Regions from separate parts of the Homo sapiens genome. Here regions 1, 2, 3 and 5 are each linked to region 4. The links come from fine-mapping of genetic effects on gene expression. A gene starts in region 4. Each other region holds a variant in brackets. All regions are shown on one strand. Distances are from middle to middle.

Region 1 (5,109 bases), 36 kb after region 4:
GTGACGCTTAGCTGTCACTCACTTCTGGATACAAGAGGTTGGAGCAGAAGAGCTTTAAACAGAACTGCTTCCATGGCCCATCTGAGGCTATGGCACATTGTGTCATGTATGATTACCGGATAATTGCAGCAAGTCTTTCATGGCACATCCCCAAAGAGTGTCACACTGGCCCTGTAGCAACCAGCAGGCAATCTGACCATAGTGTACTTATGCCTAATCTCTATTTCTCAAGCATCAAATAAATTGTCCTTTTTATGAGATTGTATATTATCCTGCAGCAGGTCAAACAATTCTAGAATTTGGTCAACACTATTCAGATATTAGAGGTGTTCATTTGGAAAAGTATGTTTTTCATTGGCTCTGTGCTTAGCCACAGTGCAACCACACCCCCAGTCTGAGCATTATTAATAATAATGAAGTCTTAACATTATTGTCATTTCATAACTATTACTGGGCACCCAAAGTTTAATAATGAGTTTGTAGAATTACCAAGGAAAATTATACTTCTGAATCTTGGGCTGAGTTTTACACAGCCCAATCATTATGTTAAATGATTATTTCAAGCTTTAATTTTCTATTTTTTTAATGAATGCCATACATTACTGTCTAATAGAAACTATTCAATCAAGCAGTCTTCTAGTCTTGCCTAAATGCTTCCAGTGATCAAGAATTTTTACCTCTCTGACATATTCTGTTCTAAGGTAGTAGAGTAGTTTTAATACTGATGTAGTTCTGGTATATTCAGCAGTGGTTGGCACATAACAGAGCTAAAAATATTAACTCACAAGCTTTGGATTAGGTAGTTATAGCTTCAGATCTCATTTCTACTTCTTTAAGGCTGTGATATTGGAGACATTAATCTTGTAAGCCACACTTTCATCATCTATGAAATGTGGCTGAATATTTACCTTATAGGGCTTTTTGTAAGTACTAAATGTGAAGTGCTTAGAACAACATTTGGCAATACTGGGCATCAATAAATGGTAGTGAGATACAACATTATTGCCACCCTGTGATGAGTTCTCCCTTGTACCTCTCACTCCATGACTCTCACCCATTTGGGCCATTAGAATTGCAGTCTAAAGCTTCCAGTGCTTTAAAAGGGTGACTTCAAGTGACACAAGACTTCAGGTTGTCAAATTCTTCAAGAAGGATCTGGATGAATTAATGACCCAATTCCTCCCTACCCTGGTTCCTCCCATTCTCTGACTACATGAAGATTCTGAAGTAATCCATTGGCCCTAAGAGCCAAAAAATTGGTGCAATTCCAAATAAAAGGGATAAATTACTCTCCTCCTCTGAGCTGAGGAGGAATTAGAGAAGAAAGAATGTGAGACTTTAACTGTTCTCCAGACACTATTCACCTTGGTGCTCCCTACCCCTTACCCAACATGGTGAAACCCCATCTGTAGTAAAAACACAAAAATTAGCCGGGTGTAATGGCACGTGCCCGTAATCCCAGCTACTCGAGAGGCTGAAGCAGGAACTCAGGAGCTGTAGGAGGAACTCAGGAGGAGCCATCATATATCATATATGGTTTGCATACATGCAGATGTACCCGCCCAAGAAGGAAGTGAGAGGTGGAGTCTCACTTGTGCCTCCTTAACTAAGTCCCATACTCTGTTGCTGGGCTGGGGGAAGGAGACCCTTTTTCTTCCCACAAAAGCACCAAGCCATACTGTATATAACCGCATTGACTCAGAGGTGAGGCTTCATCTAATTCGCAGGAAGATAGTGGAGGCATTAGATGGATAAATTTGTGGGCATTGCACTGCGCTGTTTTCCCACAGCCTTGAGAGTCAACAGATTCTCTGAAGCATTTCCCAGGCTGTTATACTCTGGGAAACATGAAGCAGAGACTGTGAAAGGGCAAACTGTTAGGCCAAAGATCTTAGGCAGTTCCAGAGTTTTACACAGCCCAAGGAGCTCTGGGAATTGCCAGATATCTTCTTTGGCTGAGAATAGTCCAGGTACAACCCTGACAGCATGAGGACCTGAGGGATCCTCAGGCTGGGATATAAGGGTTTGGTGTGGAAACCTCAGCGATGACAGTGTGGAAGGCTGACTATCCTTGAGGACTGGATTGGCCTGAAAACTGAAGACCTCAACACCATATAACAAGAGTGGAAAGCCTTAGGAGGGCAAGGATTTTTGCCAACTTTGTTCTGTGATGTATGTCTGACATATAGGCACTCAATAAATACTTGTTTAAAGAATGGAGGAACAAAGGAAGGAATAAGACAGATGAGGACCAAGGATTATGTGCTCCCTTTCCACTGATGTCAAGGTGAATTAGTTAACAACTTCTGCATAATAATATTATTACAAACTTTGCCATTTAAAATAACACACATTTATTAATCTCATAGTTTCTATGGGTAGGGAATGCCAGGTAGGCTTAGCTAAGTACCTCTGCTTAGAGTCTTATAAGACTGCAGCCAGGCCAGGCATAGTGGCTGTGCCTATAGTCCCAGCACTTTGGGAGGCTGAGGTGGGAGGATCACTTGAGGCCAGGAGTTGAAGATCAGCCATGGCAACATAGCAAGACCTCGTCTCTACAAAACAATTTTAAAAATCAGTCATGCATGGTGGTTTGCACATGTAGTCCCAGCTACTCGGGAGGCTAAGGTGGGAAGATCACTTGAGTCCAGGACATTGAGGCTGCAAGTGAGCCGTGATTGTGCCACTGCACTCTAGCCTTGGTGACAGAGCAAGACCTTATCTCAAAAACAAAACAAAAAGACTGCTGAGGCTATGATCTCATCTGAAGCCTGACTTGGGGAGGACCCACTTCCAAGTTCACTCAGGTTGTTGGTAAATTTTATTTCTTTTGCAGCTGTAGAACTTCTCTTTTGTGGTAGTAGCCTCTTTTGCTGGCTGACTGTTGGCTGGAAGCCATCCTCAGCCAGAGGGCTGCCCACTCACCATGTGCAGTTCCCCAACATGGCTGCTTGCTTCCTCAAACCAA[C/T]AAGAGAGGAAGAAGTCGGCACCACAGTCTTATGTAACATAATCACACACATACAATTGAATACATGGAATCATTAAAATCCCATCACTTTTGCCATAACCTATTGGTTCAAAGCAAGTCATAGGTTCTGCCCACACTCAATGGGAAGCGACCACAGAAGGCATGAATATCAGGAGGCAGGGATTATAGGGGCCACCTTAAGATTCCTTCTGTAACACAGGGCACAGTTATTGTTTTCAGAATCAAACCTGGGAGAATGTGGAGGGGGAGAATCTTGAACTGACCTAGTTTACACCGAATAGCTTTTTTCCTACAATTGGGCACTTGAGATAAAATCTGATAGACTTATAAGAAATAAAATTACATTTTGCAGACCTTAATATGTAATTTTAAAATTTCTACCTAGCCATAGGAACTACTGACTTTATATTAGCAAATGTGCCTCCACTCTAATTTCTATCTCGTGGTCATATTTCTACCTGTTGGTGCCATAGAAATATAATTTATCTTTTACCTGATAACCCTTCAAATATTTTAACAAGGATACACTGTGTCTGAAAATTCCTCTAAGTTAGTATTCTTAGGCTTGTTAATCATGTATCACACAAAAGTTTTCTAGATTTTTCCAAAGTAGTTGCTACTATCTCTACATGCCCAAATATATTTGTCTCTTTTAAAGACAAGTGCCTAAAACTAGGTTTTGTGTTTTATATAAAAAATTTTATCTAGAATTATCTAATTTCTGCTAAATGGGATTATATTTCTCTTGTTGGTATAATGATAAAGAACTTTTAAAACAATGGGAATAACATTCTAAGAAAAACAACATACTATAGCAACAACTCTGAGGATGTAGTAGGAATTTGAGCTTTGTCACCTCTTTTAGACTCTTCATAAATGCTAACAATTATTGTGATTTTTATAAAGATAATAATTATTGTCAGTAAGAAATCATTACTGATAGCATCTACTTATAAAATGTAATTAATTAGTTTAAAAGTAAATATTATGTAATTAGAATGATTGCATACTATCTTATTTATAAAATAAGATAGAAAATGTGGAGAACATTACGGATGTTTTTAAAATGTGAGAAAATGGCAGATGGCATAAACATCAGTAAAATCCAAATGAAATATCAACCTATTCAGAAAATAAAACAATTTTGTAAGGATTTTGTATTTCTCACTTTTCTGTTATGTTACGCCAGCAATGACTTGGTTTCTGGTGATGTCGAAGATGATTGCATGTTAGACAACGTAATTCTAGCATTAAAGGTATTACTTTGTGCATCGACAACTGCCACCATCTTTCCAGATTTCTCAAATTGCATGAGTAGCTTGCAAGCTGACATAATTATGCTGCTCTCATTAGCAATTTAAGTACAGCTGGAAAAAGCTTATTAGGATCTTATACCAGTGGTTCCCAATGAGAATCCTGCAATGTCCTGCAGTAGCTAGGGAGCCACTATGCCCCAGGGATGTTTTGTCACTGCTCTTGAAATGCATTGTCTCTTTCTAAGCATTATACAGCATGGCCTCATGGGTACAGCTGGGGAATAGATCAAGATTTACAAGGTTTATTCCTGCCCCTGGAGCAGATTTCTGGGAAACCAAAAAAGGAACACATAACAGATATGTCTGTATCAGCAAAACTTAGTGGAGTAAAACTTTCCTGTTTAGTAACATGAAACCATTTTATAAGGGTTTAAATTTTGCACTTGCTTATTCTCAATTTTTATCCATTTTGTCTATTTCCCCACCCATATTTTGTTGGCCTCCCTCTATCACCCCCAAAGCTCTTTTTGTTTTGTTTTGAATTCTGGTAACATATACATGAAATTTATCACTTTAACCATTTTTAAGTATATAGTTGAGTAGTGTTAAGTCCATTTACACTGTTGTGTAGCCAATCTCCAGAACTCTTTTCATCTTGGAAAACTGAAACTCCTATACACATTAAACAACTCCCTATCATCCTCATCCCTGCACCGCAGTCCTTTGAAACCTTTATTCTACTTTGTGTCTCTATAAATTCCACTACTCTAAGTACCTCATATAAATGGAATCATGGAATATTTGTCGTTTTATGCCTGGCTTATTTCAGTCAGCATAAAGTCCTCAAGGTTATCCACATTATAG
Region 2 (5,109 bases), 150 kb after region 4:
GGCCATAAAAACTGAATTTAAAAAGTTATAGAAAACTGAAAAGGAATTAATTGCATGTTGATTAGCAGTCAGTGAAACAGAGAAGCTCATTTCTGAAAAGTTGTTCAAGCATAATATTTTGAAATCTGACATGCATTAATGAGAGATTTAATTTAATTAGAAATAAGATAACACACAAGTATAACCTTATTAAGAGAAACTATGGCAAGCAAATCTATTATTACAATGGAGTATATAAACAAATAAGGTATCACTAGGTTTACAATTCAGACAGTCTCATTACATTGAAATTTTATGTTTCTTCAAATCATAATATCCGGTTTCTAGAAAATGTTTACTGCAAATTATAATAAAATGCAAAACAAATCATAAAAATACATATCAAATCTTTAACATCTATCATACATGTTCTAGCCCCACTGCTGTTACCACCAGTGCAGGCCCCCGCAACCCTGCTCTCTGGATTCATGAACAGTCACGGAGTGGGATGGCATCCTGTCTCTAGTCTAGATCTCCTCCAATCTAGTCTTCACAGTGCAGCCAGAATGATCTTTCCAAGTGGAAAATGTTGACAAAGTTACTTCTCCAAAATCTTCTATCAGCTTCCCATCATTTTTCAGTTCATATAATTTGAATTCCTTCGTGTAGTGATCAGGTCCTTCTGTCTCTACTCACTGGCCCCTGCAGCAAAGCAGGCTGCAGCTGTGATCCGCCACTCGCAGTGTCAGATGCCTGCTCTGGGAGGACTTCCTTGCCCTCACACTGCTACCCACTACCAGCTGCACCCCACCCACATCCCCATATACATGCCGAGTATCCTCAGCACCTGGTACATGGCCCCCTGCTACTCTCATTACATGTATCTATCCCCACTGCCCCGACTCCAACCCCAGATGGCTTTTTGAGGCCAGGAACTGTGTCTTCTTTTCATGTTTTTTCCACTAATATCCTGCACAGTGCCTAAAACACTGAATTAATGTTTATTAAATGAAGGACACTTTTGAATATAAAAGGTGAGGACAAATCAAAGACTACTGTAAAGTAATCCAACCTCAGATTAAGTATTTATCCTTTGACGGCTGGAAGCAAAACATTTCTCTCAATCAACAGACAGAAACAGAAGCAGAGATCACTCTGCATTGCTACTGAACAAAAATATACAGCCTCTGAAGGAAGTGATTTCTTAACAAGACACTGGATGATATTCTATTATAAAAGAATTTATTACTACCAGAAGTCATTCCTACATAAAGTTTAAGTATATATTCCTTTCAAATCCAGCCACATTGTCTCTTCTTCACAAACTGCTTGCAAAAACAATGTTTCAAAAAACATCCTTAAGTTTACGTTCCATAGAATCGATTTATAATTTTGAAAGTGATTTCCACTAAAATTATCTACTATTTTCTAAAGCAGGTGGCAATGCTGTTTGAGTTATGTTATTCCTAGAAATTGACAGTGATGTGGGTTTAGGCTTTCCTCATATGTGTATGAAAAAATTTTAATTTGGAAAAAAGTTTTTTATTAGATGATCTTTACAGTTCATGATGGCTACTTTAAGTGATTTTAGTATTTGAATGGCATAAGTATCATATAACTTTCTTTACTGAAGAAGACGTTCTCTAAATCAGTAAGAGCTTATCCCAGCCAAGGTAGGTTAAAAGTAATTATTTTTGTGAATGTGACCATTTTGATTTTAGGAAGATTGGTGGCTGTATTAATGTTGATTTTTAAAAAACATTACCCCGTACCTCAAGTTGGAATTTGTCTGGTAAATTTAGGCAACTGTTCTATGTTGTGATTCTCTTTCTATAGGTGAATGTGGAGAAAACTTGACTCTTGACTTCTTAAAACTTGGCCATGGAAAGGACAATTTATTTTAGAATCACAGCATATTAGTGATGGAAAGGGCCTCAGGATCATCTGATTCCTTCCTGTCATCTCATGGCTAGAAGAAATGACTCAAAGAGAAGTTAACACACTGGTAAGATTCAGTAAAAAGAGGAAAAAGAGTGCATTTACCTAGGACACTCTGCTTAGTGCTATTTCTACTTTATGCTAAGATCACATCTATAGGTGAATAAATAAAGCTGTTCACTGAAAAAAAAAAATAGTGCCTTCTCTAAGAAAATTAAAGGTAAGCCAACATTGGCCCAGGGCTCACCAAGTGCCAGGCACTGTTCTAGGTTTCCTTTTTTAGGGTGAACCCTATGAACGACACGAATGGCTGATATTTGACTGTTTTGATCCTAGAAAATCAGCAGTTTTAAATGGTTCAATCTAAAACACACATTAGCTTATCTAATCCTTATAACAACCCCATGAGGTTCAAAGATGAGAAAGCTGAGGTCAGAGATGT[T/C]AGATAATTTGTCTAAGGTCATATGAAAGCAAATGGCAGATCCAGGATTCCAAACAGGAATTCTCCAGAGTCTGGATTCTTTGCCACTGTACCACACAGCCTCTTTCTCACATCCAGAAAAAATGCTGTAGTGGTAACCTTCCCATACATTTATAAAATTGTCGAGATCTGGCAGGATGACTTTTTCCCATTATACTCGGTTCTTATGAAGTAAGTGCCCTCACAAGCCTAGAATAATTAAACAGCTATTAAGTGATATAAAAGGACCAACTGATTATCTCAAAAAAATAATTGCTATAATGAAGAACTAAACAGGAACATTACAGTCATTCATGAGGCATTTGAGGAATTCCTCCTGGTAACTAACTGAAAAGTTTTAGGGCCCTGGAATAGAGTTAATAGGAAAACCTAAACAACTAATCTTTCTATGTGGTTCTAATTTACATTAAGAAAGACGTTTAGCTGGGTATGGTGGTTCATGCCAGTAATCTCAGCATTTGGGGAGGCTGTGGCAGAAGGATCACTTGAAGCCAGGAGTTTGAGACCAGCTTGGTCAATATAGCGAGACCTCATTTTTATATATCTATCTATATATATCAATATATATAAATTAGCCAGGGGGCATGATGGCATGTGCCTGCAGTCCCAGCTGCTCAGGAGGCTGAAGTGGGAGGATTGCTTTAGCTCATCAGTTCAAGGCTGCAGTGAGCTATGTTCACACCAATGCCCTCCAGCCTATGCAACAGAGGGTGACCTTGTTGCTTAAAAAAAAAAAAAAAAGAAAGGTGCTCTATGGAATGGAATTGGAAACAGAGTAAGGCTTTTGTGCATCCTGTAATCATATTTGAACTGTCCTACACTATAACTGAAGAGCCAACTGTTTTCAGGTACTCAACCATCTGTTGATACACTGCTTTTTAATCACAGATGATTAGTCTTATGAATGTGTTATTCTAAAGGGGAGTAGCCCACACTCTTAATGAAGTTCTATTGATTCAGATATATCAAGTCTGACTGTCATAGTCTACATAGTCTATCTAACACATCATATTGTTTCAGTTGCAGGAGTACAATTTTTTTTTCTTTCTTTTTTTTTTTTTTTTGAGATGGAGTCTCGCTCTGTCACCAGGCTGGAGTGCAATGGCGCCATCTTGGCTCACTGCAATCTCTGCCTCCTGGGTTCAAGCCATTCTCCTGCCTCAGCCTCCCAAGTAGCTGGGATTACAGCGTGTGTCACTACACCCAGCTAATTTTTGTATTTTTAGTAGAGATGGGGTTTCACCATGTTGGCCAGGATGGTCTCGATCTCCTGACCTTGTGATCTGCCCGCCTCGGCCTCACAAAGTGCTGGGATTATATAGGCATGAGCCACCGTGCCCGGCCACAAGAGTGCAATTTTAAAACTACTGCTAAAGACACTTCCACACAGGATGATAGAATTGATCCTCTGTAGACTTTTACCTTTTATAGGAAATTGTTACTTTTTAATGCCACACTGGGCATGTTTGTATTTTAAATTCAGTTCAAGGACTTCTGTGGCTCATTTTAAGCAATTAATGTGGTTAAGAGAACAAATGCAAAACTACAAAGGGCCTCATAGGCTGGACCATATAGTCCCTTGTCTTTGCAATTAAAGATAGGATGTGAAATTCTCTTATACTAGTACAGATTTATAGTGCAGTCACCCTAAAATTGTGTCTATGATGGAAAAACATGGTTGTCCTGCTCGATGCCAACCTCAGATGTTAGGCATATTCCTCAACACACCTAACTTCCTTAACAGTCCATTTTTACCTTTGTCATCCAGTAGTCTGCCTCTAGCTTTCAAACATCTGTATTTTCAGTTGGTATATTTTGAGCAGAGTTTGACAGCTTTACTCTTCACTGTATGAAATATTTACTTTTATTATTTAAAAACTTAACTTTCAAGTTTTCATTCAGATGTTACCTGAGATATGGATAATATCTGTATCCTACCAGTAATCTCAATGGCTTGGAAAGAATTACTCATTGTTGTTATGGATTCTCCCCTCTGCTTCCCCCCACCCCCATTATTCCTTCCTTTCTTCATTATTTTGATAATGATTTTTCTAGTCTGGCCTCTTTGGAAGTTGTCCTCTCCAGAATTTTTTATCATTTCACTATACTGCATGCACCAAACACCTTAAAATTTTTACTCAAGGGGTAGAAGACGACTAAGGCAATATTTCAAGTGCTGTTTAATTCTGGAATTGGTATTATCTGACAGTTCTAAAACTGAATTTGAATAAAGAAGAATAGTTTTTATGATAGATAGGTTCATTTTCAAGACTATCTAGTTAGTCTTTGTTTTCAAGTTTCAAAATGATACCAATTTTTAACAAAGCTTTCGCCTCAATTTTAAAATGGTTCTTAATGTTTAGTTTAAAATCTCTAAAATCATTTTAAAATTTAATTATATCATATATTTATTGCCTTATCTTTATGATTCACATGTAAATGTATTCACTCAAAAAAATCTAATCTTAGGCATGGGGTAAGAGTCCTTAGTCCAGTGACCAAGGTTCCCTTTGAACAGTCTAAACCTCCCATGACAGTGTCTGCATATTATTTTTCTTTTTCATTCTTTCTCAAAACAGTTTTATTACTAAAGGCAATCACAGGATTCTAGAGAATCTTTTTCTCTCTTCTCTCTCTTTGATTCTGATCATATTTGTGGGCTTGCTATGTATGACTAGGCTCATTTATTTATTTTTTTTTAAAAATCTTCT
Region 3 (5,109 bases), 27 kb after region 4:
ACAAAAAAACCTTTCTAGCTATTATGTAATGGGTCCTATCTCCTTGGCATAAGATTCAGAATAAAAAGTCAGTATGTAATACCTCCCTATTATAGGCCAATTATGAAATAAACTACTAAAATCTATTTATTCTTATGTGTCAGCATGGTGGGATCCAGGACCAGGAGTTCCATTATTCTGCCTTTGGTTGAATGCAGCACCCCAAACTCCTTATCAGAGAGTAAGTATAATTCATTCAAAATGATTCTTTCATATAAACATCCTCATCATGTTATAAAAATTTAAGCATCTCTTGGAGAAACTTATCACTATGCAATTCCCAGGAGAAAATTAAAACTTTTGAAAACAACTGAAAATAGATGATGGTGACCAACAGTGGAGAAAAAGACAAGTCAGACATAGGAGAGAATATAGTGTCTGGGAGAAACCAGCCCACAGCTGTATACCCACAGCTAAAAAATGTGGAATTTCTGATGGCTGGAGCTACAGTAGCTTATTTTCAGACTAAGGCCAATTGTAGTATGCCAACATCCTCATATTCTGCTGAAACACATTTGCCAAAATTGTTCTTTCCTTCATTATATATGTTACTTTTCCTTTTCTCTTCTGTATATCCCACATTTTTAAATATATAATTCACTGTCAGAAGAAGATATAATTTCTTTTGAACACATGTAATATATAAAATCATGCCTTTACATCACAAGAATCTTTAGAAGATGTTCTGACTTAGTCTTTATAAAGGTTTTTATTTTAACTCCTCTAAGGAAAAGAATGCATCAATAACATCATGCAATAATAGATTATTATTAAATGTATTGAGAGTAACCCAAATGTTTATGGTTTTACAATTTGGCATTTTTATTTGAGTAAGCATAAAGAAGGTGCTTATTTCCAAGATTAAATAACTTCATGTAGATTACAAAACAGCCAGAGTATCTTGTAACCATGTAACCATGAGGAATATTAACACTTCTGCCCCTGCAACACCCATACCAGCAATTATTTGTCATGTTCTTGACTTTGAACACTCTTCCACAATTCATTTTGTGTCCCCTGAAGGAGACTGAAAACTAAACTAAAATCATTGGTGCCTGTTTTATACTAGGCATTTTACTAGGCACTTTCATATACATTATCTAACTTAATTCTCACTGCCACCATCCAAAGTGAGTACAAGCGTCTCTAATCGCCAGTGATAATTTCTCTTTGGAGAATGATCCAGATTATAGACATTACATTTAATAGCAGCAGTTTTTCTGCAGATCAAATGATGATGAGGTAATTTGAGCCTACATTGTCCAGTGTGGCAGGCACCAGTCACGTGGCTATTTAAATTTCAATCAATAAAAATGAAAAATTCAGTTTCACAGTCTCACTTGCCACATTTCAAGTGCTCAATAGCCACATGTGGCTAGTGAGTAGTTTTACTAGTGAGCAGTTCTTGCCACTTTTACAACCCAGGAATATCTTGTCTCAAGGACCTGAGAGCAATTTCTTTGAAATATAGTTATCAAAGGATATAGTACTCCTATCTCCTAGTTCCTGTGGGATAGTAGGAGCCTAACTTTAGTGGGCATCTGCTCCAAGTTGCAAAACTACCTTCTAACATAAACATATGAGAAGTTTATTTTTACTTTGGATAAAGCCAATTAGCAAACACAGATGGCCTAAGACTTTCCCCTAATGTCCTCCAGTACTGTCCACCAGTTCAACCGAGCCCTTAAAAAACCCTACCCCCTCTGCCTCAGTGGAGTCAAGTTCAGAGTTTGTTCTGGCCTCTCTCCCCTACTGCAATAGCCTTGAATAGAGTAATGTCATCCTGGCCTATTTTACTTTGCCTGGTACAATTGTTTTTTGTTTGTTTGTTTGTTTGTTTTGTTTTGTTTTGTTGTTTGTTTTTTGAGACGGAGTCTCGCTCTGTTGCCCAGGTTGGGCAACAGATCTCGGCTCACTGCAAGATCTGCCTCCCAGGTTCACGCCATTCTCCTACCTCAGCCTCCCGTGTAGCTGGGACTACAGGTGCCCGCCAGCACGCCCGGCTAATTTTTTGTATTTTTAGTAGACACGGGGTTTCACCGTGTTAGTCAGGATGGTCTTGATCTCCTGACCTCGTGATCC[G/A]CCCGCCTCGGCCTCCCAAAGTGCTGGGATTACAGGCGTGAGCCACCATGCCCAGCCACCTGGTACAATTTTTGCTTTAACACCAGTTTTCAGAAAATGAAAATAGTAATTCAAAATAGTGTAAGCCGAGTGCAGTGGCACATGCTGGAGTGCAGTAGTCACAGCTACTTGGGAGGATGAGGTGGGAGGATCACTTGAGCCTAGGAGATCAAATGTAACCTGGGTAACAGAGTTAAACCCCATCTCAAAAAAAAAGTGTAAGTCTTAATTCATACTGAAAATAGTTTTAATGTTTTCTTAAGCTGAATGATCTACATAAGTAATCATATACAGGTAATAATGTGGCAAAGTGAAATGATTTGATTACAGAAATAAATCTAATTCCAGGATTTAAGGATGTAGAGTTGCAATTACATAAGCTATACCTGACACCACTTCAGCATCACACATATTTATCACCCGGTTTAGCTGTTCTGCTGTGAATGCATTATGGAAAAGGTAGCCAAGTTTTTTGGTCTAGGAATACTTTCTTCTGGAACATGGCCTTCCTCTAGCTGAATATAGCAGAAGACCCCAGCTAGGTTCACTGATGGGTCTTTCTATAATAGCAATCTATTTCCATTATGATTCTCAGGCCCAGCCAAGGCCACACACATTCCAAATCTATACTCTCAGGTCTTCCTAGAATTTATATTCTCTGCAAATTCAAGGAATTAATCATAGTGTCTTTCAGCTTTTTCTCAGAATTTTCCCAAAGTTAAATCACTGTTAATAAAACATACGTTCTTCACAGAGAGTAAATCCAACAGTTTGTAGAGAGACAGCTCTTCAGGGTGATTTTCTTCTCTTTCTTAGTGGCATCCCGGGGGATTTACTTCCATTATCATCTGAGCACAAAAGAGGATCAAAAATTTTGGCCACCGTTTAGCTCTATTTCCTGGTTTAACTACTTTTTTTTTTTTTTTTAACCAGACTTAAAAGAGATGGTTCTTTGGGGAGAGGGGATGGTACAAGAAGAATCACAAATTTTCATTAAAATCCCTGATAATAATTGGCTGTATTTATACATTTCTGGTGATTTATAATTTTCAGAAAGCTTTCATGTTAATTCTTTTAATCCTCCCAAAAATCCTATGAGGTTGGTGTTCATATATGCCCTATTTTACCAAAAGAAAACAAAACAAAAAACTAGGAAACTTAGAGACACGGAGTAGCAATCCAAGCTTACAGAACAGTTGTTTGCCTCCACTGTCCCCACTTCTCACTGCCATTCTGATTTCCAGTTCCAACCCATGGAAACTTGTGCTTGGGCTCCTACCACTTGACTAAAACTACTCTCAACAAGGTCTCCAGTAACCTCTTTGTGGGACCCTTTCAGTCCTTATCTACCCAGACTATCATCAGCACTTGACTTTGTGGACCACACCCTTGCTTAGTTTCTGGGACACTACACTCATTTATTTTTTTTTTTCTCTTGCTTAATCTGTTTCTCTTTTAAGGACTCCACTTCCTCTATCTCAGAGCTTCCCAACAAACAGGAAACAAAGAGATATTGTTTCACCCATGTGGGACCTGGAAGTACAGAACCTTATAGCTGATTGCTATCATTAGAAGCATTTTTATTTTGTGTTCCTGTGATGGTCATCCAAGAAAAGTGGATCTGAAAGTGTGCCTCCCTCCGTCCCAGCATCATATGGCACTCACTGTTCTATTGAGTAGATCTGGGAGAGGCCAAGTTGGACATCAACTTTGGTAGCCCAAAGAGGAGAGTGCACAGCTCAAGATACAACTGCCTGTGCAGGGGAAGCCAGGTAGGGGTTCTTTCCTATTGGAGCTGCAAGCAGGATAAAATTCTGTCTTCAAATATATTAGTGTTTATTTCTTATGGCACAATGTTTAGAAATAAAGAAATATATAAAATTTGTGCTGACTACAATTTTAGTAGTGTTCTTTCTAGCTATAGTATGACTATCCTAATAATGTGTTTGTTCATCAAGAGAAAATTTGATTGTATTCAAAATCATCATCTTTGCAAGAAATTTACTATTACATTTGTCACTGAAAAAAAGGGATGATAGATTCTTTAGATATAATTCCAACTGTCATAAATTGTTAAGTAGTTATAAAAAATATTCTCACTTTTTAAACTACCTACTCATATGAACATTTCCCACCAATGGTAATGATCACATATAATTAGAAAGAAAGTATACCAATTTCAAACATAAAATCTGATATTAAAAAGTTAGGTTAAATATTATATCAATTCAATATTTAGCACCCCTACTACTTTTTAAAATTTTTCTTATTATAGTTATAGAATATAAAGAAAGTATTAAGAATTGTGTCCCTACCCAAAAAAGATGGGTTAAAATCCTAACTCCCAGTACCTCAAAATAAGACCTCATTTCAAAATAGGTTCTGATATGGTTTGTATGTTTGTCCCATCCAAATCTCATGTTGAAATATGATCCTCAGTGTTAGAGGTGGGGCCTGGTGGGAAGTGTTTGTCTCAAGGGGACAGATCCCTCATGAATGACTTGGTGCCATCCTCGAAATAATGAGTGAGTTCTTGTTCTATACATGCAGGATCTGGTTGTTTAAAAGAATGTGGCACCTCTCCCTCCTCACTCCTTCTCTTGCCATGTGACACTTCCTGCTCCCTTTTGCCTTCCCCAGTCATTGTGAACTTCTTGAGGTCCTCACAAGAAGCAGATGCCCGTGCCACACTTCTTACATAGCTTGCAGAACTGTGAGCTAAATAAACCTCTTTTCTTTACAAATTACCCAGCCTCAGGTATTCCTATATAGCAATGTAAAAACAGCCTAATACAGGGTCATTACAGATGTAATTAGTTAAGATGAAGTCATACTAATGTGGAGTGGACCTCTAATCCAATATGTGTTCTTATAAGAAGATAGCCATGTGAAGACAGAGAGACACACAAGGAGAACACCATGTTAAGATGAAGGCAGATACTGAATTGC
Region 4 (5,109 bases):
CCTGACTAACACGGTGAAACCCAGTCTGTACTAAAAGTACAAAAAATTTGCCGGGCATGGTGGCGGGCGCTTGTAGTCTCAGCTACTCGGGAGGCTGAGGCAGGAGAATGGCGTGAACCCAGGAGGTGGAGCTTGCAGTGAGCGGAGATCGCGCCACTGCACTCCAACCTGGGCGACAGAGCGCGACTCCGTCTCAAATAATAATAATAATAATAATAAATTCTTGATGTAAGCATAGTAAAGGCAATAATTACTCTTGCTCAGGGATTGCTCATGCCATCTACATACTCTTAATAGACACTCTTGCCCCCAACTTGAGGAAAATCAAACAGGTTATACAACTCATGTGGTCCTTCTTAAGTGTCAACCCACAACTTGGTCATAAATTACAGTAGGCAGGTGACACATACAAGTCACAAATAGTTTTGTCACATCAAATTTTACTTTTGTTCTACTGAAAATAGGTGGCAAACCTGCAGAATAATAAAAGAAAAGAAAAAACAATCAAACTAGCAATTAAATTTATTTTAAAGAAAGAAATAAGTTGGAATTATTTACAATTTAATAATGCTACATGACGGCAGATAGCACACAGTCATAGATTTGTAAAAGGTGCCTGTCACCACACACACAAAAAAAATCACTCACACTGACTATAACTTGTTAAATAAATCATGTCTTTAAGTCATTAATATGATCAACAAATCATCAGGAACACGACAAGGAAAAAGCTGAGCTTCTGTTCTTAATGTGAAATGCAGTCCACCAAAGAGACAACCAAAATAACTAAACAAACCTCTGTGCTGACTGATGGCATTTTCAGACTCCTGAATAAATAGGAAATGTCCAAAGCGCACGCACACACACACACAAAAGGAACAATCCCGAGACAAACCTGGCTGTAAAATAAGTGTGGAAGCAAAATGATAAATTCGGAGGTATTTTTTATTTGAGAGACATCCCGAGTGCTTATATTGCATCACCAGTGAAGGAAAATGAAATGTTACCAGGATCCGAAAAGGAGTCTCTGAACAGGGTGTACACTGAATTCCCCTTTAATAAAAAGAGAGCAGCTCTAAACAAAATTTTTTTTTAACTTCCAGAAAGCCAAATTAAAAACAAAACAAAACAAAACAAAACAAAAGAAAGAAAGAAAAGAAATGGCTTTACCCACAGTCCCATGTCTGGGACAGAGTTCTTCTACCAAGCCATGCAAAGTGTCCAAGACAGAGGCCACCCACCACGCATTCCCAGACTCTTAACCGTGTCACTCCAGAAACCGAGAGGACTTGGATTTCCAGATTGCTAACGTGATCTGAAGGCACTCAGTACACGTTTCTGTCTGGGCAGGACCAGTTGAGCCACTTCTCGCCTTATCAACTTCCAATAATTGCCACACTGTGTGTGCAACCAGTAAGTGAGTGGCACATGGAGTCTGACCTGGCACTCCATTCACACACTTTGTCTGATACTACTTTCATTGTCTGGGCTCTTGTTTTTGGAGAAGAGCTGCCGAAAAGTATCACCTTTTCCTCTATCACTAACCTTTACCTTTACCTCTATCCCTAACATGGGATGCCGAGGTGCAGAGGCACCAGCACTGCCCTGCCATCACTCTAGTGGATACGGACCCGATTAGGCGTCCTTCTTCCTTCTGCCCACACCAAGGCCCCCCAGGCCGCGGCCGCTCACCGGGAACCTTCCCAGGGGAGCGGCGGAGGGGCGAGGCCATGGTGCGGGGACCTGCAAGAGGGCCCTGACCCTGATAGAGAGGGGCCGATGGGCGGCCAGGTGGGCCTGCGGGTTTACCTTGTTGAGGTGAGGGTTCCGTGTCAGCAGGTAGCCGCGCTGATGGGTGTGGCGGCGACGGGGGGCTTCGGGCTCCATGGCTGGCGCCGGGTTCGGCGGCGGGGTCAGGCCGGGGCGGGCCGCACGCGCGGTGCAGGCGGCGGATGCTGCTGGGGTGACGGTGCTGACTGCAGCTGTGGCGGCGGCGGCCGCACTGGGAAAGGCCCAGCGGCTGGGGGCGGGCGTGGGTGGCGAGAGGGGGTGGACGCGTCGGGAGGGGCCCGAGCGAAGCCGGTGTCCCCAGCAGGGCAGCCTGCGAGAAGCGCTGAGTCATGGCAGGAGATCATCCGAGCCGGCGTGTGAGGAGGAGGAGGAAGAGCGAGTCCTGGCAGCGCTGCTGGTGGCGGAGCGGGGGTGGCGGCCGGAGCCCTTGGCTCCATAGGGCCTCTGCCCACCATGGGCTTATGATCACCGCTGTGGTCGCCTCTCTCCATGTGGGCATGCCTAAACGCAGTGCACTGGGTGGCTCTGCTGACCCCAGAGACCCAGGGCGGGGGCAGGGAGCGGGGAGCGTCAGGCCAGGATCCCCCTGCCCGGGAAGGCTGGAGAAAGTGCGAGAAGATGCCAGAAGGTGCGAACCTGAGCGGTTCAGGCAGAGCCGGCGGTCGCTCAGACACCTAGGGGGATTACAGGACGGAAGGACTCGTGAGGGGTCCCCAGAACTGTTGACAGAACACCTCGACAGGCTGAGGAGAATCAGACTCGTCTCTCCTGTCTTGTTAGCGTCTTGGAAGCCCTCTTTCTACAGATCCACAACCTTCGCCGTGCCATCCAGGATGCCGGCCATGCCCGGGGCCCTGAGGCCGGAGGGAACCAACCTTGACCCAGAATGCCGAGGCCCAAGGGAACTGGGAGGAAGCCCAGAGAGGAGAGCTCAGGCGCCACACCTGTCAGTTTCTACAGATTTTCCACCGGAATTGTATTTGAATGTCAATAAGATAAGAGTCAAGGTGTTAGGGTGCAAAGGCCCAATGAACAGTCCTGTTTATCTTGTATATTATTTCTCTGGGAGTTCTAGAAACCTGATGTTCAAGAACCACTGCTCTCTCTGAATAATGATGAGTAAGCAGTCTTTCAGGCCTTCCTCCCAACCTCAGGTGATCCGCCCGCCTCCGCCTTCCAAAGTGCTGGGATTATAGGTGTGAGCCACCGCGCCGGGCCATTTTTTTATTGTTTTATTGATATTTATGCTTGGAGGTTCATGGACTGGAGGAATAGTCAGATCATAGCCAAAAGGAGTGCCTGTCTGATAAAAATAAATTAATAGCAACAGACACTAAAGCCTTCTGTGCCCCAGTTTCCTTTTCAGTTAAATAGGATTGCTAGTTTCTGTCCCATTTGTCTCTGCATACTGATATTACAAAGGATAGTGTTTGAGATTATTTGCTGATTTTATATCTCCATATACTAGACACACATCCAATCACAGTGTTTTCATTTCTAGTTATGTTAACTTTGCCTTATCAGAAAGATTTCTTACAGTAATTGTATTTTGTCCGTATTTACATTTAGAAGCTTCTTTGACCTCGCCTGAATTATCTAGAATTCGTTGTTTTTATAGAGAATATTTTCTAGGCATCACAAAGTTCTTTTTGAAAAAAATCCTTGAAGTTAAATGACACCTTTCATTGTTAATTCTATACTCCATAAATACTCAATCCTACAACATCTAAGAAAAAGGTGTACTTTACACAACTCACTCTCCTGAATTAACTGAGACACATTACAGTTAGGGTGTTTTATGTGAGAGGAAACAGTTTAACAGCTGGCATGGGAGCCAATTCAAGCTGCTTAAGAAGAAACAAAAATGTTAGTACAACAGACCCTTATTATAATAAAGTACTTATTACATGAATTTAGATATACTACCTACCTGTTCCTGTTTCTGAGATTTAATATCTACAGATAGGAAAAGTGTTATAAGTACAGGGAGTAACCCACAAAGAGTATATGGCCTCTCCCTCAAAGGCAACATTACAAGGGGATTACAATATCCTGCCAGTAGTAGGTAAAGTTCACATCTTTCATCTGTATGTTTATTTTAATTATTAAAATAACCGCCGTCATCTTGAATGAAACAGGATAAGGCCTAGCTGAAGAAGCCATTTAGTACATTCATATGTAGTTCCAAGAATACTAGAAAGAACCTATTTTTCTACATAAATGTTAGCTAGAATATCAAAATTTTCAGTCTTTTTTAAATAATAATCTCATAAGGTTAGGTTTTATTTCCAAAAACGTAGGAAAACAGATGCAGAGAAAAAAACTGCTTTAATTTGCCTTGTAACAAACTGTGGTTGCACTGTCACTCTGAAAGCAATTGGTAATGTTAAGAATGGGTATCATTCACAAATTAAGAGACTAAAACATAGATTTCTGTTATACACAGGTGAGAATGCCATCAGTCAAAATCAGATTTTTCTTTCCCAAGTTATAGTTTAGCACACAAAGAGCTTTTACAACATAAAATATGATTGTAATAGATACTCTGATGTAATGTCAGTTGAGATTGCAAGTATAGAAAATTCAGGAAATAACTCTTAGTACATACAGCAATTCTAATATTTTACTTTCATGAGATAAAAAAGATTAATAGAAAAAATACATATCTAGGTGAGGATTTATAATATTAACTAAATGATTCTGTATTTCTTCACACAAAAAGCACACTACTACTATGTCTTCAAAATCTAGTGTGCATTTTATAACACATCTCAATTTAGACACCAAATTTTTATCAGAAATTTGATCTGTATTTCAATTTTATAAAACTTACATTTGCAATAGTAGACTCTCATACCTAACTTGTTGCAAATATACCTTAAAGTTTTCCAATGACTAAATTGAGTATCTGTTTTATATTTAAATTAAAATCAAATACAATTTAAACTGAGTATCTCATTTGCACTGGCCACATTTCAAATGCTTAGTAACATGCCAGTGACCATCGAATTAGAGAGCACAAGTCTAATCCAATGCATTTGGGCCCTTAATTAAATGTTTTAAATAAATAAAGATCAAATATACATACCTGTGTTATTGTAATGTTCATACAGATGTTGTTACATGAATCGCAGAGTAACTCAAGTTATACTACCTTATTAGTTTCACATATATAGCTATTTATAACCGTAAATGCATGCAACATACTGATTTTCTTTACAAAGCACTGATTCTTTTCCTTCTTCTCAGATAGTCAACCCAGTTGTTTCATTCCTCAAACCATTTTGTTAAAAGTTCACATCCCAGTTGATAACATGG
Region 5 (5,109 bases), 170 kb after region 4:
GTTAAGTCTTCACTATCCCTGAAAAGCATTTTCAAACATAACCAATAATTTTACTAAGGTTTACTAAGCATTCCTAAGTGTTAAGTTTACTAAGGTTTACTAAGTATGAGAGTATGAAACACTCTTACTAAGTTTACTAAGCATTCCTAAGTGTTAAGTCTTCACTATCCTTGAAAAGCATTTTCAAACATAACCAATAAGTTATTTTAAAGACATAAAGAGATAAAAATAGGGTATGATACCATAATGCAATTATATTTTTCTAGTTATTTGGAAAATAATCTATTTTCAACAGGTTAAAACAATATTTTCACATTTTAAGACTATAAGTGTATTATTATTTATAGAATATCATTAACATACGAGCAGCCACAGTTTATAAATGCCCATTTTACAAATGGCTGATGTGTACAGATGCTTCCCAGTGTGTTTCTACCAACAATGTTAGTTAAGGTAAGAAGTCTTTGAGCTTGCATAGAGATGCTATAGTTTCAAAAGTACAGAAGGAATCAAGCCATGATAAACATGACAGGCTTAGGAGAAGAAAACCCTGGAGAGTGGAGACCAGCACCCACCTAGAACCTGTCACTTACCTGCTAGACTTTCCATCCCCAAATACTGTCTTCCGCAATATCTACTCATGTTTCCTGGAACACTGTTCCTTCAGTCATGAAAATAACATGTCATATATACTTGGGAAGGGCTACACAGTACATGCTCTTCCTTGGTGATTTACTTAGTATATTAGGCTCTAGGACATGCTACTGTCAAGATACTTGTTTCTCAGTTTGACCTGGCATGTCCCAAACTGAGTATGAAACACTCTTTAGTAATGCAGAGTTCTAGTTTTATGTGGAATAACAAACATTAAACTAGATACTTACTTGGGTTAAAAGGCCCTTTACCAAATCACAAATATCCCTTAGAAGGGACAACAGGACATCAGTTATTCATATCTTATGGATTAATCTGATCTGATTGTTCCTCTTTGTTATACTGAGGAAATATATGTTCAATTTATTTATTATTAGAGACAGAGTCTTGCTCTGTTGCCCAGGCTGGAGTGCAGTGGCAATATCATAGCTCACTATAGCTTTGAACTACTGGTCTCAAGTGAGCCTCTGGCCTCAGCCTCCTCACGGACTGGGATTACAGGCCTACAGCACTATGCCCAGCCAGGAATATAGGTTTTGAGTGTCAGGTCAGCTGAGAGGCCAAATAAATAAAACTAAAGAATGAAGAATACATCAAGGGATAGAGTAGGCCTACTTTCTAAATGCCATGTTAAAGATACTATACTTCAGGACTTAGAGCAACACACCCTCTACAAGCAGGGCAGAAGAATGTAAGAGAAGTATGAAAAGATGTTGGGAGGGCTGTAAATATTTTGCCATGAGTCAGGTCAGTTGTTTTATTTTTTTTTGGTTCCTATAAAATTTGGAACTGAGGCCAATAATATTGCAAAGAGTAGAAACACATAGCAGTCATATATATTGCCATTATTAAATTTATCTGTAACAATCTTGTGATTTAGGTTCTACTGTCTCCAGTCTGTAGATAACACAACCAAAGCTTAAAGCGTGTGTGTTCTCATCACAAACAATAAGTGAGGTAATGCATCTATGTTGATTAGCTCAATTAGCCATTCCACAATGTATACACACTTCAAAACATCATGTTGTACATTATATATATATGTATATACTTTTTCAATTAAAGATTTTTTTTTTAAAAAGTCTGATGACTAAAGTTACACAGCAAGAAAATGGCAGAGTTAGGATTTGGCTCAGAGCTGTCTGAGCTTTATGTGTTTAGCCACTGTACTGCATTTTTTATGAAATATGCCTCATTCTATTATATTACTCCCTTCTTTATAATTGAATAAACATCAGTTACATTAGTGCCAGGGATCAAATAGATATTTATGGGCTGACCCCTTTAGGTTATCACTTATGTGTAAGGAGATAAAGCCCATATTGTTATAGCTACATCCTTAGAAGAGGGTTTTAAAAAATCCCCTTGTCAGCAAGATATCTCCTTTTAATTCTTCTCTTGTTACTTGAAACTAAATATTATCAACTTAACTCATCTACACCTGTCAGAAATTTTCTTAAAGGTAGGAGCTGCAGCTGCTCCCACCCCCAGCTGTTTGAATCTTCCTAGCCCCGAAGGAGACATGAATGAGTGTCCAGATGGTACCAGGCCCAATCACTGTCTGACTGCAGCCACAAAAGAGACCTTGAGTGAGAACTGCCCAGCTGAGCTCAGTCAGCCACCAGAACTGTGAGAGATAAAATTTGAATTTGTTAAAAAATAAACAAAACTTTTTTAAATATCTAGTTTTTTTCATTATAAATGGCAGCATTATCTTTCCAGTATTGCAAACTAAAGTTATTTCCAGTTCAGCTCTCCTTTTCATGTTACCCATTTGCAGTTAATTTCTACATTCTGTCAGTTTTTCAACCAGCTCTATTTCCTAGAAATGCGTGCTCCTGCTGTTCTTCAATTATGGACTCAGTCTAGGCCTTAATCCATAAACTGAGCTGACTGCTGCAGACTAGTCTTT[T/C]TTCCCCTTCCAGCACTCTAAGACAGAATTTTCCTCTCAAACTTTTTATCATATGACTACCTCTCTCAAATCTAAGAGCTGTTGTTTCCCTCAGCCTGACCTATTCTCTCTCCCCATCTACTTTGGCCACATAAGCCATCTTAAATCACACACTCAGCACAAAGGTTCCAATTGTTCTCAACAGCCCAAATGTCACATTCTGGTTCCTCTTTGTCTCCAAAGGTCCCAGGTTATAAGGCTCTAACATGAAATCTAGTTGAAAGTGTTTAATTATTGGTTTTAAGGAAGGTTGGTTAACTTAGTTTTTTGACCAACATGTACCCAATGTGATCAGGCTTGTGAGGTAAGTTCTTTGGTTTTCCAGTCACTTTGGTTTAATGTTTGCAGACTACTAACCTTATGAAGGTTTGCTCACAAATTGACACATTTGATTGAAAGGGTATCCTTGTTGGTGTGCAGAGGAATTAGCATCAATTTAGCATTCTAGTATTTAGAAAAACCCTGTGTTGTTCAAATCAATGTGCTATTGTCAGTAAAATTTGCATCAGTATAAAAATAGGTTATTTTTAAGGATTTTGCCTTTTATTTTTGTCAATATTTATAAATTTTACTAAATTTTAAAGGCGTAACACTGCCCTTGCAATCCTGTTCTGCATGATCATAAAAAGAAGATCTCATTTCTTAAAAGTTCACTTTAAAAAATGAAGCATTTAATAAATGTAGCTGACAAAAATTTTTTAATGACTTACATGAACTACCTACATTGAAAGGACTAAAACATTACTTGTGTATCAATAAGAATATTTCTGTTAAAAATCACAAAAATTTACTATTTTTAAAATGTGTAATTTAAATATAGTACTAAAATACATTAACAGTTTTAATATTTGATAGGGATGAAATTAAATAGCCATCCTTCTGAAATTAAAATCCATTAAGCTTTATTTCTAAAGAAATCTACTTAGTTGCTGTACATATTGCATAGGACCTCAAAAAGGCATGTTTTAAAGTTGTAAAGTTATGCTGTGTTAAACAAAACATAACTGGTTTTCTGATTATTCTAGAGTTCTACCACTTACCCATTGTAGAGAGACAAAATATTTAAAAAATGGCCACACAAAATGGCCAAAGAGATTTTAGCTTAGGTTTTTATTAAAAATTAAATCTCTGAATAATTTCTTAAAAACCAATGAAGGCATGAAAGAAATTACAGAAAATCACTGAAAATCACAAAACAGATAATGACATATATAGACTCCTGAACATAAAGGATGGAAATTGTATAGCTATCAGAAGCCAGGAGACAATTTATAGAACTAAACAGATCAATAAAATAATTATGATGTGATTTTCAGATGTAATTGTCATTGTACACTCATTTCTCAGCCAGATGACTGGAAAGGATATTGATAAAATCACAAGAACAGTCTCATTCTTTGACATTAAGTTGCATGATTCTCTGCAGTACTCATCCTTTAAGCTTATATTTAAAGCTACAAAGAATGCCATCATGAAAATTTTCTAAACATACAGATTTTTCCACTTGATGAATATAGTCAAAACAGAAATAAATGACAAACAAAAACAGCATAATGGCATGAAGAATATTTCAAAGAAATATCTTAGTCTTTATTATTCTAGAGGGCTATGCAGGAAGTAAGATAGAGTTGATTGATTTCTTTGAGGTAATCAACTCCTTATAAGTGGACTGGAAACAAAAAATCTAAACAGCTAAGGCGTAGAAATGTTTCAGCACAAAATTATTATGCATCCTGTCCATATTTTCCTTACTTTTTTTCTGTTAACACAAGCCTATGAGAAACTACCCATAGCTACATCAATAACAGAGGGTGGGGGAAGGATAGATTTTAAATTAAAACATTTACTAAGTGTATTACCTATTATTATTATGGAACTTTCAAGCTAGAAGGACTTTAGAGATCTTCTAGACCAAGTTTCCAATTGTATAGATGGGAGAACTGAGGCCAAAGGAGGTCAAGAGGCTTACCTTTAGTCAGGCCTAAACAACTTTGACAAACTCTATTTACCACCTGATTTAGATTTGTGGAAGGAAGAGGAAGTTGATTTTATAAATGTAAGCTAAAATTTAAATTTTTGGTTTCAAAGGATATAGGGGCATAAATGAAAACCTAACCCTCTATAGTGGGTGGCTCTTTTTAATTTAATTTTATTTTTGAGACAGGGCCTTGCTCTTCACCTAGGCTAAAGTGCAGTGGCGTGATCAGGCTCACTGTAACCTCCACTTCCTGGGCTCAAGCAATCCTCCTGCCTCAGCCTCCCAAGTAGCTTGGACTACAGGTGCTTGCCACCACAACTGGCTAGCTTTTAATTATTTTGCAGAGACAAGGTCTCACTATATTGCCCAGGCTGGTCTCAAACTCCTGAGCTCAAGCAATTCTCCATCTTGGCCTCCCAAAGTACTAGTATTACAGATGTGAGCCACTGCGCCAGACCATGGGTGACTCTTTATTCAAGGGTCTGCAATCCTTTTTCTCCTACTCTTTTACAAACAGGTTTCTCCT

Evidence for each region. PIP is the estimated chance that this variant, and not a neighbour inherited with it, causes the effect.
Region 1: its variant is the best candidate, but not a certain one, in a credible set for the expression of ME1 in whole blood (TOPMed, PIP 0.77).
Region 2: its variant is the best candidate, but not a certain one, in a credible set for the expression of ME1 in whole blood (TOPMed, PIP 0.90).
Region 3: its variant is the best candidate, but not a certain one, in a credible set for the expression of ME1 in whole blood (TOPMed, PIP 0.78).
Region 5: its variant is the best candidate, but not a certain one, in a credible set for the expression of ME1 in whole blood (INTERVAL, PIP 0.50).

What each region holds. Positions count from the first base shown.
Region 1 is chr6:83,465,026-83,470,134 of GRCh38, forward strand. No RefSeq gene overlaps it. Among named protein-coding and RNA genes, the nearest start is that of ME1, 37 kb to the left of the region's middle. The variant C/T (reference allele first, on the strand shown) is at 2,969.
Region 2 is chr6:83,582,408-83,587,516 of GRCh38, forward strand. The region is part of intron 22 of SNAP91 (synaptosome associated protein 91); the gene reads right to left. Among named protein-coding and RNA genes, the nearest start is that of PRSS35, 72 kb to the left of the region's middle. The variant T/C (reference allele first, on the strand shown) is at 2,360.
Region 3 is chr6:83,456,264-83,461,372 of GRCh38, forward strand. No RefSeq gene overlaps it. Among named protein-coding and RNA genes, the nearest start is that of ME1, 28 kb to the left of the region's middle. The variant G/A (reference allele first, on the strand shown) is at 2,122.
Region 4 is chr6:83,429,068-83,434,176 of GRCh38, forward strand. It overlaps ME1 (malic enzyme 1), which reads right to left and starts at 1,984. Exons shown (of 14, transcript NM_002395.6): 1 at 1,810-1,984. The coding sequence starts at 1,887. RefSeq lists enhancers at 1,198-1,467, 2,088-2,257, 2,200-3,399 and a silencer at 1,688-1,877.
Region 5 is chr6:83,595,043-83,600,151 of GRCh38, forward strand. All of the region lies in intron 16 of SNAP91 (synaptosome associated protein 91), which reads right to left. Among named protein-coding and RNA genes, the nearest start is that of PRSS35, 85 kb to the left of the region's middle. The variant T/C (reference allele first, on the strand shown) is at 2,567.